Regions from separate parts of the Homo sapiens genome. Here region 2 is linked to region 1. Evidence: fine-mapped expression QTL. A gene starts in region 1. The other region holds a variant in brackets. All regions are shown on one strand. Distances are from middle to middle.

Evidence for each region. PIP is the estimated chance that this variant, and not a neighbour inherited with it, causes the effect.
Region 2: its variant is fine-mapped to the expression of FBXO28 in tibial nerve (GTEx, PIP 0.96).

The regions. Positions count from the first base shown.
Region 1 is chr1:224,112,304-224,115,220 of GRCh38, forward strand. FBXO28 (F-box protein 28) reads left to right here and starts at 1,808. Exons shown (of 5, transcript NM_015176.4): 1 at 1,808-2,093. The coding sequence starts at 1,827. It overlaps LOC105373056 (a long non-coding RNA gene), which reads right to left and starts at 1,737. Exons shown (of 3, transcript XR_007066897.1): 1 at 1,632-1,737. RefSeq lists enhancers at 1,451-1,580, 1,601-1,660, 1,801-1,870.
Region 2 is chr1:224,346,244-224,349,160 of GRCh38, forward strand. No RefSeq gene overlaps it. Among named protein-coding and RNA genes, the nearest start is that of CNIH4, 9.2 kb to the right of the region's middle. The variant A/G (reference allele first, on the strand shown) is at 1,674.

The DNA of each region.
Region 1 (2,917 bases):
AATACAAAAATTAGCCAGACGTGATGGTGGGCGCCTGTAATCCCAGCTACTCAGGAGGCTGAGGCAGGAGAATTGCTCGAACCAGCTGACATCGCACCACTGCACTCTAGCCTGGGTGACAGAGCAAGACTCCATCTCAAAAAAATAAATAAATAAATAAAGGAAAATAATAGAAGCATGCTTATCCTTCAATGTGTATTTCCTAAAGACAAAGACATTGTCTTATATGACCATAATACAATTACCCAAATCGAAAAATTTAATATGATTACAGTATAATCTAATATACTGTCCATTTTTAAATTTTGCCAGTTGTCACAATAACGTTCTTCATAGTTATTTCTTCCTTAATCCAGGATCCCATCCAGGATCACCCATAGATTTAGTTGCCCTGTCTCTTTAGTATCCTTTAATCTGCCACAAACCCTTAGTCTTTGTCTTTTGTAACGTTAACACTTTTGAATAATTTATGGGCCCGTCATCTAGCGATGTCTACCTCAAACGCAACTCGTGCTTTTTTTGCATGAATACTACATTATGCTGCGTCCTTTTCAGGGTATTATATTAATAGGCATATGATATTGGCTCCTCCTATAACTGTGGCGTTAGTCTTGATCATTTGGTTATGATGGTGTCCACCAAATTTCTCTATTGTAAACTTTTTTTTTTTTTCTCGCTCTGTTGCCCAGGCTGGAGTGCAGTGGCAGGCTGACGGTTCGCTGCAGCCTCGAACTCGTGTGGCTCAAGCAATCCTCCCATCTCAGCCTCACGAGTAGCTAGGACCATAGGACCTAGCCACCACATTTGGCTAATTTTTTGTATTTTTTGTAGAGATGGGGTTTCTCCACGTTGCCCAGGCTGGTCTCCAACTTCTGGGCTAAAGTGATTCTCCCGCTTCAGCCTTCCAAAGTGCTGGATTACAGGCGTGAGTCAACACGCCCAGCCTTGTAAACTATTTCTTTTCATCTTTGTAAATAATACATAATTTATGGGGAGTTATTTTGAGACTATGGAAATATCATGTTCCTCATCACGTTTACCTCCTAGTTTTAGTACCTTTTGATGATTCTTGCCTAAATCAGTTATTAGAATACAATTCATATATGATAAAATTCATTAAAGTATATAGTAATTCAGTGGTTTTTGTATATTCATACGGTTGTGTAACCATCACCGCTAATTCCAGAGCATTTTTATCACCCCGAAAATGAAACCCTTCACCCATTAGCACTCATTTCCCCATTTCCCCCAGCCTCTGGCGACCACTAATCTACTTTTTATCTCTATGGATTTGCCTATTTAAGACATCCTATATAAATGCAATCATACAATATGTGGTCCTTTGTGTCTAACTTATTTCACTTAATATGTTCTCACGGTTCATTCATGTTGTAGTTCTTATTGATATTTCATACCTTTTTATTTGCCTAAATCAATCATTTCTATGATTCCTAAAAAATGGTGCTAGTCTAACTACATTATTTCCATCTACACTTACTAGGCAACATCTTTATCATCCATTGTCAGGAAGCCCTTTAAGAAAACTGCACAGTGAAGTTCATTTTAATAAATAGGGTTTCCTTGCTCTCAAGTAGTTACTAATCTTAGACAAAAGGGTCTAGGATGACCACCTTTCTTGAGGTTTACATGATCTTCCCTGACTTCCACTTGAAAGGCACCCTGTGAGTCTCTCTCCGCCTGTTATCCCACAGGCTCCTCCCCACTCCTCCAGGTACCCCTTCCCCGGCGGCTGCAGGAGGAGGAAGTGACGCACCGGAAGTGTCCCTGTTCCCCTTGCTGTGGGGGTAAGGAATCAAGCCCCCAAGATGGCGGCAGCGGCGGAGGAGCGGATGGCAGAGGAAGGAGGCGGCGGCCAAGGCGACGGCGGTTCCTCTTTGGCCTCCGGCTCTACCCAGCGACAGCCTCCACCGCCCGCGCCACAGCACCCGCAGCCGGGGTCCCAGGCGCTCCCAGCCCCCGCGCTGGCTCCGGACCAGCTGCCTCAAAACAACACGCTTGTGGCGCTGCCCATCGTAGCCATCGAGAACATCCTCAGCTTTATGTCCTACGACGAAATTAGCCAGCTCCGCCTGGTGAGGCCCCCGCAGAACTCCTGCCTCCCTCTCCCCCCGGCCGAGGTCTGGGAGATGAGAAGGGAGCGCGTTCCCCGGGAAGGGAGCCCCCCGCGAGCCCCAGCCGGCTACAGATCTGGGAGGGAGCCGCTCCCGTCCCGAACTCTCCCTTGGCGTCAGTCAGCAGGAGTGGGCTGGTTCCCGATTGCGTCCTAGCTGCGGAGCTGGGGTTACTTCCTGAGGGGACTTCGCCTTGGGGGCTCCTTGCCCCCCGCCCGGAAGCGGGCCCTCTACGGGAGGGGTAGCGGAGTTGGTCTTCCCACCTTCCGCCTGGCCCGAGAGTAGACCCGGAGAGGTCATGTCGCCTGCCTTTTGTATGCCGCTTCCAGCCCCCGGCCTGGGTTTGGGGAGAAAACTCAGAAGTAGGCAGATGATCCCAGCCAGGTTTGGTTTATCTTGCAAGAATAACGAATTGTTCCCCACCCCAACCACCCAAGTTTTCTTGTTCGAGAAGATTGAGTAGACTAAGGTGGCTCAGTGACCCCAAACCCAGGTAGAGGTTCCGAAGAATTCGAACGTGTTTACTTAGCGTTAGCCCCAGCGCCCTAATTGACCACTAAAGTAGAGCCTTGGGAAATGACCATTCCTGCTTTGCCTCATCCTAACGCTTCCCACCGTAGAGAAGCAACTTACCCCTTGACGGGTTTTTTCTCTTTTGCAATTTATTTTTAACTAGTGATTTACGCCCACCCACCTGCTTTAGGAGAGGTTTCTTTATACCTTAAAATCACAATAGGTCAGTCCATGATTTTTAAAAATAATGAATTTGCCATTGGGGTTTTACT
Region 2 (2,917 bases), 230 kb after region 1:
TCTAATTTGGGTTTATGAAACTAGGGTAATCCCACCTTTTAATGAATAAGTTTACTGTTTATTTTTAAAATTATTTTTATTTTTGTTTTTGAGTTGGGATCTTGCTCTTGTCACTCAGGCTGGTGTAGATTGGTGGGACCACAGCTCACTGTAACCTCAAACTCCTGGGCTCAAGTGATCCTCCTGACTCAGCCTCCCAAGTTACTGGGAATACACGCATGTACTACCACACTCAGCTGTTTTTTTAAAATTTTATTTTTGTAGAGAGAGGGTTTTACCCAGGCTAGTCTTGAACTCTTGGCTTCAAGTGAGTTCAAGATCCTGCTGCCCTGGCCTCCCAAAGTACTGGGGTAACGTGTGAGCCACCATGCCTGACCTAGTGTTTATTTTTTAATGTTGCTTTTTATGTGGCATTTGTGTTTGGCACTGGATGGAAGGAAGATAAATTCTGTGTCAATTAGGTTTATTGATGCAGATATTCAATCAATATTGACTGAATTTCTGTGTAAGAAGATTGAAGATATTGCTTTCCTGCTTTACTGCATATAGGGTTGCCAAGATTGTACCAAGATCACATTTTTTTCCTTTATACTATGATTCTATTTTTAAATTTGTGAATAAGGTGAGAGGTATGAGCCAAAGTTTTTGTTGTTGTTGTATATGGCTGTTTAGTGGTTCCAGAACAGTTTGTTCTGGAAAAGAATATAGCTTCTCCGTTAAATCGTCTTTGTATGTTTATCAAAAAAATTAATTGACCATATATTTGTGGGTCTATTTCTATATTCTTAATTTTGTTCCAAAATATCTATGCATCTATCTCTCCTTTCATGAATATCACAGTGTTTTGATTGTGGTAGCCCTTAGTACATCTTGAAATCAGGTAGTGTGAGCCCTTCAACTTTGCTCTTTTTCAAAATTGTCTTGGCTGTTGAAATTCCTTTGTCTTTCCATATAAATTTTAGAATACGGTTAAGATTTCTACAAAAATGCTAATATTGTTTTAATTGGATTGCATTGAACCTATAGATCTGTTTTGGAAGAACCGACATTTTAACAATATTGAGTCTTCTAATCCATGAACATGATTTTTTTTTTTTAGGTTTTTAGATTTTATTTAGGTTTTCTCTTTTCTCTCTTTCTTTCTTTCTTTCTGTCTGTCTGTCTTTCTTTCTTTCTTTTTCTTTCTTTTTTTTTTCTTCTGGGTCTTGCTGTCTCACCCAGGCTGGAGTGCACTGGTGTGATCATTGCTCACTGTAGCTCAACCTGCCAGGCTCAAGTCATCCACCCAACTCAGCCTCCCAAATAGCTGAGACTACAGACACACCACACGGCTGGCTAATTTTTGCATTTTTTGTAGAGATGGGGTTTCACCATATTGCCTAGGCTGGTCTCCAACCTCTGGGCTCAAGTGATCTACCCACCTTGGCTTCCCAAAGTGCTGGGATTACAGGCATGAGCCACTGCATCTGACCTATTTAGGTTTTCTTTTATTTCATCAGTGTCTTGTATTTATCACATACAGATCCCGGAGATATCTTAATAGACTTATTCCTAAGTATTTCATGATTTTTTATGATATTATAAGTAGTACTGTTTGGATTTTTTTTTTTTTTTTGAGACAGGGTCTCTGTCACCCAGGCTGGAGTGCAGTGGTGTGATCTGGTCTCACTGCA[A/G]CCTCCACCTCCCGGATTCAAGCTATTCTCCTGCCTCAACCTCCCCAGTAGCTGGGATGACAGGTGCCCCCCACCATGTCTGGCTAATTTTTATATTTTTAGTAGAGATGGGTTTTCACCATGTTGGCCAGGCTGGTCTCGAACTCCTGACCTCAGGTGATCTGCCTGCCTTGGCCTCCCAAAGTGCTGAGATTACAGGCATGAACCACCATGCCTAGCCTACTGTTTTGATTTTTAACTGGCAATTGCTAGTATATGGAAATGCAATTAATTTTTGTGTGTTAACCTTGTGTCCTCTCTTTGCTAATAATACAGTCTATGTAGACAAAATTGATTACTTCATTTCCAGCCTATAAATATTTTTTTCTTGCCTTATTGTGCTGACTAGACATAACAGAAGAAAAACAAGGTGCAACAATGAAAACAGGAAGATTGAGGGTTTGCCCTATGACTTCACTTCTTTGATGGATCTAAGAAGAGTTTTTGATTTTTCAGTTTGTTTGGGTTTTTACTTGTAAGAACAGAGTTGCTACTTTTAGGTCTGTACGTGCTAAACCAGAAACCCTAACGGTTCAGTTTATACTTTTAAAATATAACACATATTTTATTTTACTTATGTATTTTATTATATTATATTTTTTTGAGGCAAGGTCTCGCTCTGTTCCCCAGGATGAAGTGCAGTGGCATGATCATGGCTAACTGCAGCCTCGACCCCCTGGTCTCAAGTGATCCTCCCATCTCAGCCTCTTGAGTCACTTGGACTATAGACATGTTACACCATGCCTCGCTAATAGAACATGTATTTTAAAACAAAAATTATATTAACACACAAACACCATTTATTGTTTTTTATCCTGATAATTTCTTTCTCCCAAATTTTGTATTCCTTGTAGTTGAGACATTGCAACCTTTTTTTTTTTTTTTTTTTTTTTTTTTACTTTCACCAGTATTGTTTAATACATGTTGCTTCATTTCTCTGTGAACATTTGGTGTTGTCAGGGTTTTTTTTTTTTTTAAAGCTATTCTCCTAAGTGTGAAGTAGTATCTAATTGCAGTTTTAAAGCATTTCTCTGCTGAGCACTGCTACATGTACTTATTGACCATTCACACATCTACTTAAAACTTTTGCCTAAGGTTGTAAAGATGTTCTAAATTTTCTTCTGGAAGAGTTACAGTTTTAACTTACACATTTAGGTTTATCGCATATTGCTAATTAATTTTTGTGTATGATGTGAGGTAGAGAT